Linked DNA regions of Homo sapiens. The protein of the gene in region 2 purifies or fractionates together with the protein of the main gene of each other region. This does not show direct contact. Each region holds a gene or a part of one and is shown on either strand. Other genes may lie near its edges.

What was found. The genes of interacting proteins can lie anywhere in the genome.
Region 1: the proteins of ALS2 (region 2) and CFAP410 purify together in Homo sapiens (affinity purification with mass spectrometry; 2 studies listed by BioGRID and IntAct, with this or other methods). This does not show direct contact.

The regions. Positions count from the first base shown.
Region 1 is NC_000021.9:44,329,391-44,336,416, forward strand, and holds part of CFAP410 (nuclear encoded mitochondrial protein C21orf2), read right to left. Parts: intron 6,415-7,026; coding exon 6,368-6,414; exon of another isoform or gene 3,873-6,367; coding exon 3,643-3,872; intron 2,625-3,642; coding exon 2,453-2,624; intron 1,530-2,452; coding exon 1,433-1,529; coding exon of another isoform or gene 1,073-1,432; intron 937-1,072; coding exon 808-936; 3' UTR 1-807. UniProt on the Homo sapiens protein: Plays a role in cilia formation and/or maintenance. Plays a role in the regulation of cell morphology and cytoskeletal organization. Involved in DNA damage repair.
Region 2 is NC_000002.12:201,700,934-201,707,959, reverse strand, and holds part of ALS2 (alsin), read left to right. Parts: coding exon 1-91; intron 92-937; coding exon 938-1,114; intron 1,115-2,498; coding exon 2,499-2,544; intron 2,545-2,759; coding exon 2,760-2,821; intron 2,822-3,356; coding exon 3,357-3,506; intron 3,507-3,741; coding exon 3,742-3,838; intron 3,839-6,070; coding exon 6,071-6,109; 3' UTR 6,110-7,026. UniProt on the Homo sapiens protein: May act as a GTPase regulator. Controls survival and growth of spinal motoneurons.

The sequences.
Region 1 (7,026 bases), on a different chromosome or scaffold from region 2:
TGGGGGGCACTAGGAAGGTCCCCAGGGCCACGGGTCACTGCCCAGATTGTGGCATCCTCATAAGACTTGCGACTCTTCCCAGAGGAAAGAAAACCCCTCTCAGATGCTCCAAGGACTCCCCTAGTCTAGCTGCTTCCTGTGCCAGGCCCGGACCCCAGGGCGAACAGGCCTGTTCATCCACAACCTCACAGCTGAGGGCCCTCCTGCAGTTCTTCACAGGAGAGAGAAAGGAAGGCGCACCTGCCCAGCCCGGCCAAGAAAACAAAACTCTCTCCCATGGGTGCGGGAGGCTGCTGCCTGCCTGCTGAGCAGCTCAGGGCAGATGTCGCTATGGGTGCCAGCATTCTCGAAGTCTCCCTTGCCCAACAGAAATCTATCCAAGGACCAAGGGCTGGAATCGGCAAAGCCATCCGTGAAGACCTCCTCATTCTGTGGAGAAACGGCCCTTGCTTTCAGGAAGACTGTCACAACCATGCCTTGGGAAACGTCACCTCCAGATCAACCTTGGGAAAATCTTTTATTAGGGAGGACAGCCTGCAAAATCCTCCCTTTAAGAGCCCAGGCCAGCCTAGAACCTCCAGACCACAGAAGGGGAGTCCTGGGGACAGGACTGGTGTAGACAGGCATCTCCACCGCCCCGGTTAGCCAGTACCTAACACCCACTCCTGCCCTCGGCCGATGTGGCAAACCGGGGAGGCTTTTGTGTGGGGCCGGGGCTGCGGCCATGGCAGCCACCCTCCAGCTCCCGGGGGCTGGGGAAGACGCTGGGGTCCCCGTGGAGGCTGGAGCGGCGTTCAGGTCCTGCGGTCACTCGGCGTGCTCCTGCACCTCTTCCCCACGCAGGGCCTGCAGCCGGCTGCCCACAGTCTGCTGCACGGCCTCCAGCCCCTCTGCATCCAGCTCCCGCAGCAGCAGCAGGATGGCAGTCAGGACGTTCTGAGGGCAGAGGGGTGCGGACTAAGCCCACCCGGCACGGCGAGGCTGCTTCCCTCCACAAGGGCTGGGGCCTGGCCAGCGGTGCCCCACCACGGAGCGACTGGTCCCGGGGGTGTGGGCCGTCCAAGTGACTGACCGGCACACTCGGAGAATCTGAGCAGAGGAGCCCCGCCTGTGGACGCGTGTGTGGCACCTCTTCCACGTGACTCCTGTTGCCCTCAGCCCAGCAGGGCCCGGGCCCACATTCCACAGACCAGGACAGCAGGAGAGGCTGAGGGGCCAGGACGGCTCCGTGCGGGGCACGTGTTACACGTGTGTGCGCATTCACAGACCCGCACACGCAGCTCCCCCTGGGGCACAGCTCTTCAAGGCCCTGTGAGGCTCCATGCTCCCTCCCCACGGGGCCCTGTGAGGCTCCATGCTCCCTCCCCACGGTTTCTGTGCAGTGGGTGCAGTGGGCAGAGGCAGCCGCGGCCCCTAGCGGCCCGCCACTCACCCTGCCCCTGTGGCTGCTCGAGGCATCCCTGGCTGAGAGGGAAGGAAACTGGCCCCGGGAAGGCGGCTTCAGGCCACGTTCATCCTGGGCGCCGCTGCTGAGAGGGAGACAAAGGCGTGTGAGGGTCAGGGGGCTCGTGGCACCGGGGGGGCCTCTGCAAACCCTGTCTGCGGGTCGCATCCAAGCAAAGGAGGGGCTCATACAAATCCCACCTGGCACACGGGGGCAAGAGAAGGGAGGCAACTCCTGGGAGGTCAGGGGCTACAGATGGCAGCTCCTGGAGAGCCCGGCACTTACTTCACCTGTGGGGCGCCCTCCCGGCACCCTGGGGCTCCCCAGCTGTAACACCTTCCACCCAGGGCTTCAGGGGCAGGGTGGGGGGCACCCGAACACACAAATGCCGGGGGAGAGCTCCTGACCATGGGGTCAGGCCCTGTGCCGGATGGCAGATGCCTAACAGAGATCACATCCCGATGCCCCCACCACAGGCACCAGCAGCGGGTGTGATCTGCCAAGCAGGAGAGAAGTGCCCAGCTTCTGTCAAATGCGTTCGTGACCCGCTGCCAACTGCCCTGGGAGGCGCCGGCGTCTCACTGCAGAGTCAGCCCTGTGGCCCCTCCACGGCCCCCAGGCCCAAGGCCATACGGGCACTGATGGCCGTGCCCACAAACCATTCCAGTCACTGTGGCCCTAGGCCACCCCCCCCACCAGGGGCTCCCTGCACCTCACGAGCTCTGGTGCTGTGAGCCTTCTCTGTGCCAGGGCACGGGGCCTGGCTCACCCCCTCTCCTGCTCCCTGGCACATCCGCTGTTGGGCAAAACATGGACCTGCCACTGAAATCACTACCTGGGCACTGAGTCACTCCCAGAGAATATGGATGAGAACAGACACTCCCCCCGGATAATCCCTGTCCCTCACTTCCCAGAGACGCAGCTCACGGGAAGCCCCATTCACTCCCCGTGGGAGGACCCTGGGGGACAGGGATGGGCTGCGGAGTCCCCGCTGCCCTCCAGCCTCACGTTGCCTCCTCCTCGCTGTCCAGCGGGTCCCGGCCAGTCTCAGCAGCGGAGCTGAGGGAGCTCAGTGTGCAGCATAGCTTGGGGCCGCCGTGGCCTGTGCCCTCTCTCTCTGGGGCCGCAGTGATCTCCTCTCCCTCACTCAGTGCACGGGACAGCTCCTCCTCCGTCACAGCTTTGGGATGAAAGACAGAAGACAGCATGAGTGGCCTCACCCACGTGCAGGCCACATGCACTGCAGCTCCCGTCCTCACTGTGGCTTCAGGCACAGTCTGCTTGTGAAATGCATGCACGTGTATCCACCTCCAGGGACAACTCCCAGAGTAGCAGCCGGTTCCTCACTGTCCCATCCCCAGCCTGGCACAGGCTGACACACAACAGATGGTGGAGGGCTGCTCAGGAATCTCAACACCAGCCTTGGCCAGAAGCAAATACTCCTCAAAACCTCAACTAAGACACAATAGAAAAAGGAACAGACCATATTGAATTTATTCCATTTCTCTCATATATCAATTTCCCTGAAGTTTATATTATTAATATCAATAAAATTGTCTGGGAGAAAATAGTGGTGTCTGTATACCTGACAAGGATGAGACACTAGTGTGCTGAGAATGCCAAGGATGAACAAACAGCATGAAACCACAGCCTGGAAAACTGTGTCGGTGCTGGCGCTGGCTAGAGGAGGCACGAGTGCCTCCAATAGGTGGAGCGCAGCAGCAGGCACTGCGGTGCTGGGACGGCCCCTCCCCACGGCAGGGGCGCGATGGCACCGCCACCCTAGGTTCACAGTGGCCCGTGGAGCCTGCCCAGTCCCTGTGGACCAGTGCGATGCTGCTTGCCAGATACTGACGCCCCCGCTCGCCATGGCGCATGGCGATGGTCAGAGCAGGGCTGCTACTCACAGAAGCAAAAGAAGGAACCCTTTTGCTTTGCTACCAGGTCCTGCGGTCGTTGGGGGATACCCAAACTGTCAGTCCCAGGAGGGACCCTACGCTGCGCTGCTGCATTCGGGTGGCGGGATCAAGAGGAGACACAGAAGCCAGGGGAACAGCCTCTGGAGGAGACTTCACAGGACACATCTATGTCCCGCCAGACCAGGTATTTGCAGAAAAGGAGAAGAGAAAAGAGGGCTGGGGACATCCCCTTCCAGGGATTGTTTTGGGAGGGCCGGTGACTCCGCTGCGGCCACCTACCCTGGTTGTCCAGCTTCTGTAGGCGCGGCAGGGTGCGCAGCACGGTCATGCGGTAGCGGTGGGGGCTGGTGCCGCAGCACGGGTTCTCGGCCAGCCACAGCACCCGCAGACGCGGCAGCCCCTTCAGGTAGAAGAGCTCAGCCAGGCTGGGGATGCGGTTCCTCCGCAGGTACAGCTCACTCAGGCGCTGGCACCGGCTCACAGGCTCCAGGGTGGAGATGCTGTTGACACTGCACGGAGACCAGCACAGTCAGCGAGGGACGTGGCCAGGGCCCCCAGGGCCACCTCTCAATCCCCACCCCCAGTAAAAGGCACTCATGGGACCTGTGTCCCTGCCCTCTCCTGAGAAGCCTAAATCGGATGTCACAAGTCACGTGCAGCAGGACCTGGGCCGAGGAGAGAGCTGTAGGAAGGCCAGGCCCTGAACTCAAAGGCGGACTGGGGTGGACCCCACCAGCAACAGCCCCTTGGCCCGACGCTCCACATCAGCTCCTCAGGGCGCTAGAGTGCGGGAGGTGGGGGATGTGGCCCTCCTTCACAGGTGAGGAAAATTAAGGCCTCTCAGGGGACATATCATGTTGCCCCAAAGCAGGGAGCGGCCAGAAAAACTCATGGCAAAAACTAGGAGCCAGCTCCACGTGACATGGGAGTGAGCACGGACCTTCCAAACCCCCACTTGAGGGCGGCAACACTGGGGATGGGCCTCATTTCCATTCTACAGAACGTGGACGCGTCAGAGAAGAGAAACAGCAGGCCTGGAGCGGGGACCTGCAGGCTTTACCCTGCAGCGTGGGGTCCGTCCCCTCCACAAGCGAACACGCGGAGCCGCTCCCGCAGGCCCTCAAAGGCGCGGAGCCAGGGCCCCCTGCCTGGAGGGCTGCACTCGCGTCCGGCAGGCGCCTCAGAAGGGCGGTCACCAGGCCCCCATGGGCAGCCTGCCGTCCTGAGCCCCCCTCCCCATGCCATCCCTTCACTCGGGGTTTCCCAGGTCTCATGCAGCTCCTAGCTATGAGGCCGCCCCATTTTACCAAGAGCAAAACTCCGGCTGTGGGACTCTTTCCAGGATGGGGTCTGCCTCAGGCACAGGCAGCAGCGTGATGTACCGACCGCGTCCGCGGCCTCGAGGCTTCCTGCTCCGCTCCAGTGCAGTCAGGCGTGCAGGCACCACGCACCTGAGCTCGGTCAACACCCCTGGGGTCCTGTCCCTCCCGAGATGTGACAGAAATGGCCCCACACACGAGCGGCCTGATGCTCGGAGGCCCTGTGGCCCCTGGGTGACTCAGTGAGCGGCAGGGATAGGGCTGGATCCACAGCCCCGCCCCAAGCTTCCTGCCACCGTGGGAACCACAAGCTCCACGTTTCCCTGTCAGGTAAGCCTTTCGGAGGCAGGCCTGAAATCCCAGCCTCACTGTGTCGCCTGACTAGTGAAACGAGCCCCGCGGCAGGCACGCGCACCCCCCCTCAACCTCTGGGCGGGCACGCGCACCCCCCCCCCCCCCCCGCTCAACCTCTGGGCGGGCACGCGCACCCCTGCTCAACCTCTGGACTCGGGCTCCATCTCCTCCTCATCTCCCTGTGGGGTGGGCACTTGTAATACCTCCATGTTACAGAAAGGAAACTGAGGCACAGAGAGGGCCATGCCTCGCCCAAGGTTAGCCAGCCAATAGATGGGAGGGCTGAGATTTGACCCATGAGCATGCCTCCAAGCCCATTTCATTCATTCAGCAAGGCTCGGGCAGGACAGGCTGGTGCCCGCGCTGGGGATGCCTGAACACCAGATGGACTGGCCTCAGCCCATGGCGGGCAGCAGGCTGGGCACGGGCATCAACATGGCAATGCCAACCTCAGAGGGCATTACGGAGGATGGGCAGGGGCTGGCCTACCCCGTGGCTGCCTGTGAGATCAAGAAGGTAGGTCACAGTCAGGGACCAGGGGCCTGCAATACCCACTCTCAGAGGGCAAGCCCTAGAGACTTCTGAGCTGCCAGAGGGGTGGGCCTTCCCCACAGGGTTTAAACCCTTGTGAGCTTTTAAATGCGGAAACCCACAGAAGGCGCCCATCCAGCGTCTGGTGGGCAGTGGTGAGCCATGAGCGTCTGCTCCCTCCGTGGGTCCCACAGTAGGCAGGAGGGAATTCAGGGATAAAGGGAGCTCTTCTCTTCCCCAGAGCCCCCAAATACACCCCAACTGCCTGAAAGTCCAGTAACATTTGTTCATTCAAGCTTCCCTTAGTCTGCTGGGAGGGCAGTGACCCCAGAAGACGGGCACAGGTCATGGGGTGCAGAGAAACTGGTAGGCAGTGGTGGCACTGGGGGGCAGAAGAGGCCAGGACTCTGGGGGTCCCAGGGCAGATGTGGCCACCGTGGGGGCGGCCAGGGCGGGCCACCGTGAATCCTTAGGAGGGCTCCACCACCGACTGGCCCAGTGAACACAGCAATGGCTTATCGGAGCACACAGGCCAAGGGTGGGCAGGCGTACAGCAGGGCAGGCAGGGGACAGGAGCCATCAGGAGGCCCAGGTGAGGCTCTGAGGAAGGAGGGCTGAACATGGGGGCCACAGGGTAGGCCCAGCTCTCGCTGTCCCGGCCCCTCCCCTTCTGGAAGCCGCCCTCAGTCTGTGTTGGAGGTTTCCAGGTTATGTCACAGTGCTGGGTCCCACTGGAGGGACGTGAGGCTCTGCCCCGGCTTCCAGGCCCCAGGCTGAGCATGACAGCAGGAGCGAGGTACCTGAGCGTGATCACCTCCAGGCTGGGCATCTCCTGGCAAATGGAGATCTAGGAGGAAAAGAACATGACTAGCAAGCATGGCACAGCAGGGCATCGCGGCCGCACTGCCATCAGCCACAGAGAACTGTCGAAGCCACGGCCAACCCACTTCCGGGGCCTGAGGGGCACGGCCTTACTCAGCCAGTGTGCCCAGGGTGAATGCCCAGGGCCTGAGGGGAGCGGCCCTGCTCAGCCAGTGTGCCCAGGGTGAATGCCCAGGGCCTGAGGGGAGCGGCCCTGCTCAGCCAGTGTGCCCAGGGTGAATGCCCAGGGCCTGAGGGGAGCGGCCCTGCTCAGCCAGTGTGCCCAGGGTGAATGCCCAGGGCCTGAGGGGAGCGGCCCTGCTCAGCCAGTGTGCCCAGGATGAATGCCCACGAGTATGCCAGGTTCTCCTCTGACACCACCTTGCAGCCCAGACGCCCCGCAGACTGAAGGAGAAATGTGAGGCTCCTCCTTGCACGCACTCTGTCTTTATTAAATTTTACGACAGCATCGTTGCTGTCAGATGCTGCCAGCAGTGGAGACAGAGCATTCATTACTTTAGATGCCCTCAAAGGACATCAGGTAAGGGGACCCCAATGTCCCCTACGCAGGGATAGAAAGCAAGGAAAGGATGGAAAT
Region 2 (7,026 bases):
GCACAATTCCTCTCTCTGCTCCTCTGCCAACCGAAAGGAAGTCTTTTTGCACTGGGAAGTCAGATTCCCGATCTGAATCACCAGAGCCAGGGTAAATGGAGTTGGGTGGGGACAGTGAAGAAAGGGAATGGTGACTAGATGATCTTACTCAAAGAGTCCCAGCGAGAAAGTGTGTTCTCTAGATCTATTTCCTCATTTCTAAAATGATATGGTTGGGGCCAGGAGGGTTGGGGCCAGCCACAGTGGCTCACACCTGTAATCCCACACTTTGGGAGGCTGAGGTGGGAGGATTGCTTGATCTTAGGAGTTCAAGAGCAGCCTGGGCAAGATAGGGAGACCCCATCTCTACAAAAATAAAAAAAATTAGCAGGGCATGGTGGCACACACCTACGGGTTCAGCTACGTGGGAGGCTGAGATGAGAGGATCACTTGGGCCTGGGAGGTTAAAGGCTGCAGTGAGCTGTGACTGCACCATTGCGCTCCAGCCTGGGTGACAAAGTGAGACCTGTCTCAAAAAAAAAAAAAATGTAGCTGGGTAGGTGCCCCCTCTGAGGTCCCTCTTAGTTCTCTCAAGTACTATTAGCCATACCCCAGGAAAAAGCAACCACAGATGATCTGAGCACAAAGGCTGCTTAGCAAAGGAAGTAACATCACACTGTCCTAGAATAACCTCAGAGAAATCAGCCTCAAAATGGAAACAATGTAGGTTTTCAGTGAGATTTTTAATTCATGAAAAGAATTCACAGTTTCCTCTAAGACAAAATTATAGATAATGTCCTCATATCAACTCCATATGTAAAGAGCAGAGTAATATTATAACTTCTTTAAAACTTCCCATCTCTACTTTTGACTTTTTGAAACTGAAGCTCTACCTTGGATTCTGTATTCAATTTTAATATGAAAAATGCTCCTTTTCTCCCACTCCATTATTTTGTAGTTATGTAGTAACGAGTTCTGGATTATTGCTTCCTGTGCTGCTACCTCGGCTCTACCCACCGCTGTTTATGCTTTATGCTTTGGATAATGATCGCGAGGAAGACATTTACTGGGAATGTGTCCTTCGACTAAATAAGCAGCCAGATATTGCTCTCCTGGGCTTTCTTGGGGTGCAGAGGTAAGTGTAGTAGTTACAAGCGCAACCAAATGGTTTTAATTTAAAATGCAAACTGCATTATTGGAAATTTGGCACTTTGATATCTAATTATATATATGGCTTGTAATTATTTTTTGCATATGTCTTCTTTAACAAAATAGTGATAGTTAATAATCTTTATTTCTGAGAATATTTGGAGATGAGTATGAAACCTGCTGATTCTTTGGAATGTGTTTTTTATTATGTTTTCATATATATAGTAATATATATTTATTATATATTAGTAATGTATTTTATATATTATGTATAGTTATATATATATATATATATAAAGTGTGAGCTATTTTGCCTGGTATTTTATAGCTCTTTAGAGCAGAATACATATCTTTGGCATTCTTCCTTCTCTTCTTTTCTCTCCTCCCTCTCCATTTGCAATTTTTAAGTTAAAGGTTTTGAAGTGTTTTTTTTTTTTTCTTTTTTTGAAAGAGAGTTTCACTCTGTCATGCAGGCAGGAGTGCGATGGTGCAATCTCAGCTCACTGCAACCTCCACCTCCCAAGTTCAAGCAATTCTCATGCCCCACCCTCCCAAGTAGCTGGGATTACAGGCGCACGGCACCATGCTCAGCTAATTTTTGTATTTTTAGTATAGATGGAGTTTTGCCATGTTGGCCAGGCTGGTCTCGAACTCTTTGCCTCAAGTGATCTGCTCGCCTCGGCCTCCCAACGTGCTGGGATTACAGGTGTGAGCCACTGTGCCCAGCCCTGCTGTTTTTATTAGAAGGTATTATTGCTTGCTATCCAGGGAATACTAAATTATTATGTTTTCTTTCTAGGGCAGTGATAAAGCTGATTCCACCTCCCCAATCTCTATTTGTGCTACCAGGAAAAGTGAATAAGCCTCAATTTTTTTTTTTTTTGAGACGGAGTCTTGCTTTGTTGCCCTGGCTGGAGTGCAGTGGCACCATCTTGGCTAGCTGCAACCTCCACCTCCCAGGTTCAAGTGATTCTCGTGCCTCAGCCTCCCAGCTAGCTGGGATTACAGGCCTGTGTCAACGCACCCAGCTAATTTTTATATTTTCTTATTTTTGTGCTTTTTTTTTATTTTGTGCTTTAATTGTTTTCAGTGGAATAATTCAGTAGTAGAAATGAGATAAAACTGAGTGAAGGAAAAATATTTGGTAATATCTGTAACGTGTAGGTTATTGGGATATAGAATGACAAATCCCTTAGGGAGATGATAAAAACTCTTAAATCACTTCTGGAATGTTTATAAAAACTTAACCTATTGTGGAGCAGTTCTTTTTAATGGGGACAAGGAAGCCAATATAGCTGTCAACTATTTTTATGGGATTTTGTTTACCATAAGTAACAACTTATATTAATAATTTATGGATTCCATTATAGGAAATTTTGGCCAGCAACCTTGTCAATCCTTGGAGAGAGTAAAAAGGTATAGTAGATTTTCTTTTCCTCAGCAAATATGCTTTTCTCTAATGGGAAGGATTTGAGATAGCAAAACTTTTTCATTTTACTTTGATAGAACAGTACCCAAGCTTGTGTTTGCATCTGTTATTACCAAAGACCTGCACTCTGACATCAGTATCATTTATTTCTGTTGTTGCAGAAAATAGTTTTCCTCCTTGACCTTCACTCTCTTTTTTGCAGGTTTTGCCAACCACGAAAGATGCTTGTTTTGCCTCAGCAGTAGAATGTCTGCAGCAGATCAGGTAATCTCTGATTTGTTGAAAAGCCATACAAATCAAAGTAGTGCTTGGTCTATTAAGATATTATTAATATGATCTTATCTTTACCTAAGCCTTAAGCATCCCCATTCTATATGCTGATGGTGTCAAACTCAATCTGGAAATCAGAAATCAGAATGAGACCCTTGGGTTATCTTTTACTCTAAAATGACCTTGCATTTTCAAAAGTAGGAGAGAGCCAAGCCAGAAATTTATCCATATAATCACATCTTTAGCCAATTGGAAATTAACCAAATTTCTCATTCAGAAAAGAGCATATATTAGGAGAATGAGATTTCACGTGGGTAAAAGGAAACAATATATGAATCGTAGACAGTTGGAGGCTACTTTTCTCATAGCACCATGGGAGTACAAAGTCATCCTTTCCAACGACTCATAATGCCTAAGTGTCCGGGTTAAGGCATGTGAATCCCAGGAGGGAATATTGTCAAAAAAGCACGATCAAATGGCTTTATTAAGAAAATTATAGGATGTCTTTTTGTCATTGTTTCTGTAACAGCACAACATTTACCCCATCAGACAAACTTAAGGTCATCCAGCAGACTTTTGAGGAGATCTCTCAGAGTGTCCTGGCGTCACTCCACGAAGACTTCTTGTGGTCCATGGATGACTTGTTTCCTGTTTTCTTATATGTGGTGCTACGGGCCAGGTAACTGTTTTATGACTTTGTTATTAGTGAGTCGTTATTTTTAAAAGTCTGCTGCTTGCATTTTCTGAACTGACAGCAGGAGTACGCTCTTCCACTAGAAAAAAATCGATTAACCCATTCCACTGTGACATTACCCTTTTATTGAGCTGTTCTTTCTTTTTCCCATCAACTAGATTCAAAAGGAGAATGGACATGTAAGTGAAAATAACTCAGCATCTTTTTCTCTCTGGGGCAGGATTAGGAATTTAGGCTCTGAGGTACACCTCATTGAGGATCTAATGGACCCCTATCTTCAGCATGGGGAACAGGGTATAATGTTCACCACCTTGAAGGTGAGTATAGTTATTATTTAATACTTTCTTATCTTCATATCTGTCTTTCATTTACCATATTATAAATGCCATTAACCACTTTTTTTGTATAAAAGTTTAATGCAAACCTTAAATGCCTTTAGAGCACATTTTGTTCTACACTTTAAAACATTATATAGTATATTAAAGTAGGATAAGCCAGTTGTTCCTCAAAATACTAAAGCAAATTCTTCATTATCTAATCCTCCTTGTAAATTGATCAAACTGTTATAAATGTTTACATTTATATAAATAATTGTAATTCTAAAAAAGAAACAGAAAGGATTCTTAGTGTCCAAGAAAGTTTCCAACAGGAGTGCTATTCAATGGAACAGGGTAAAACACAGAAGGCAGTATGTAAATAATGAATTTGAATTCCATCTTCTTTCTTTGCCTTGTATTTACTGTAACCAATAGATTACAAATGAGCTTCTTTGATCTGGGTGGCCTGGAGAGATTGTTAGAAGTCATTTGTTTCCTGCCTTGATTTTTCTTGGAATTTGGAAGAATCACTCTAAAGTTTATTGAAAAAACAGCAGATAGAAAGTGCAAAAACACTTGTGAAAAATGAGAAAGAATAGACCTACTCTTCCAGTTAGTAAAATTTATAAAATTACAATAATGAAGATAAAATAGTATGTGACTGTCACAGGAATACACAATTACCTAAATAGAAAGGATAGCTCCCATATAAACACATCATAATAAAAACTTCACATGAAAGTGGAAACACCAAACCAAAATGGAAAAGAGGAATTATTTAACAAATGGTAAAACAAAGTATTGGATAGCTTATTAGCAGTTTTGGAGGGAGGGTAGAATAGCAAATTATATAGATGCTTTGGGGTTTAAATATAGAGAAAGGAAGAGAGAAGGAAAGACAGGTAAATTAAAATAAGAAAAATAATTAGAATTCAATGTCAGGTTTCTGGCCTAGGTTAACTATTTAAACTTTTCAACTAAAATACCATTAATGCTTCTTTTTTTTGAGACAGAGTCTCACTCTGTCGCCCAGGCTGGAGTGCAGTGGTGCAATCTCGACTCACTGCAACCTCCACTTCCCAGGTTCAAGTGATTCTGCTGCCTCAGCCTCCCAAGTAGTTGGGATTACAAGTGCCTGCCACCACACCTGGCTAATTTTTGTATTTTTATTAGAGATGGGGTTTCACCAGGTTGGCCAGGCTGGTCACGAACTCCTGACCTCAGATGATCCACCCGCCTTGGCCTCCCAAAACGCTGGGATTACAGGCGTGAGCCACTGCACCTGGCCTACCATTAACACTTCTATTAAATAAACTGAAAAGGGGGAGAAACTGGGGAAAATATTGGCCACAGATGACTTAGATTATTAGTGTTTATGTTATTTGAAGAGTATCTCTAAACAGATCACCAAAGAAGAAACTGAACTAGTAAGTTTACATGTAGAAAAATACTCAACCTCACTGAAAATCGTAGTACTGCAGATTTAAATAAGGTACCATTTTGTGCTGTTAAATTATCAAGAATATTTTAAAATTACTGATGGGGTTATAGTGAAGTCATTATTATTCCCACATTGCTGATAATGGGGTAAGTAGCCATTACCCTTTTGGAAAGCAATTGTTACTAACATAGATATCAACAACATCAAAAAATGTGGAGTTTGACTCAATGGTTCTACTCCTGGGGATTTATCCTAAGAAACTAAAGAATGGAAAATGTTACATGTTATCTGGATGTGTTATTCATTGGGGTATGAGTAATTCCCATACCTGGAAACTCATAATTCAGGGTGCTTCTTAAAAATGCATTCTTGGAAGTTATGACTCCCCAGGTCTGCAATGATGCTTAATCTGTATATTTATTAATCATACTAGGTGATTCTAATTAGAGTTGTACCTTTTAATGATTGGTATACTCTAAATGTCCAATCAGTAATGGCAAATTGTGGTGTCTCTGCATGTGAAGAATATTAGCTAGCTTGTAAAAAAACTTTGTTTTAGAATAAGACGGGAAATGAAAAAATTTTGTCTATACTAATTACAAGTAGGCAAAAGACAGCCACTAGATAGGGGAACTAGAAGGGAACAGGGAAAAGTGAAATCAATTAAATCTGTTGGGCCATCAGCTGAATTTGTTCATAAGGGATTTTGTTTCTTTAGTCCCATATGCATTGCTCTCTTTATGTAATTTCTTTAAAAGTGAATTTGAAATTATTTTGAACTTTTCTTCCAGGCATGTTACTACCAGATTCAGCGTGAGAAGCTTAACTAGGCTGCATAACAGCTTGAAAACTGGATTATCTACTACAGAGTGTTATAACACCATCTGGAGTCTTCCTGTAGTGGCAAAAAAGAACAGTGTTGAAATTGGAAAGGACTTTGTGTTATTTAGGTTGTTAGAATGAGCCTTACCAATAATAAGAGCCCTGAGCCCAGAAAAAAGGACTGTATAGTTTAAAGGGAGGATTGAAAGGGAGGTAAAAAATCAGATTAGACCAGTTCTTGGCCTATGATAAGTTCCAAAAATACCATTTATCTACTATTTGAAAAAAGAAGAGGATATCCCTTCCTACAGTAAAGGGTATGTCAGCTACATGAAGTTGTAAGAAAAGCTTCCAGTAGAGCTTCTTATATTAAAGAAGTTGATGGATATTTTTGAATTTCTGGTTTGCCTGAATCCACCTGCAGTTACCCCGATCCGTTTGCAAGAACCAGATCGTACTTGAAACTATAGTGGCCACACTCTGCCTTCCTGAGTCCCTTCCAGTCATGTGTGCATCATGTCTCTTTGCCAAGGGAGGGGAGAAAGGAACTTTTAAACTGCAGTTTTAACTTTTTCTAAGCTGTTTCTTGATGGGAGAGGTTCTGTGCAAAACTACCACATTCTGTCCCCAAAATGTGGAATGCATCCAAATAGGAGTCTTCTGCCTCTTAACTTAAAAGAACATAGGAATTTTGTTTTTGGTTTCTTTATCATGCTACAGAGAGTGAATACACTGGAATTCAGACACCGACTCTGAGCTGCTAGGAACCTCATTTGTCCATGTGCAAACGCTGTATTCCAAGGCCTGTGAATGGCAGCCTGAGGAAGTTTTGCATGCAGGCTGTGTTTTCGAGCAGGACTAACAACTGGGAAATAAGCAAAAAACTGCATCGATCCCCAGCCTGGTGTTGTTCTTCCCTATACTT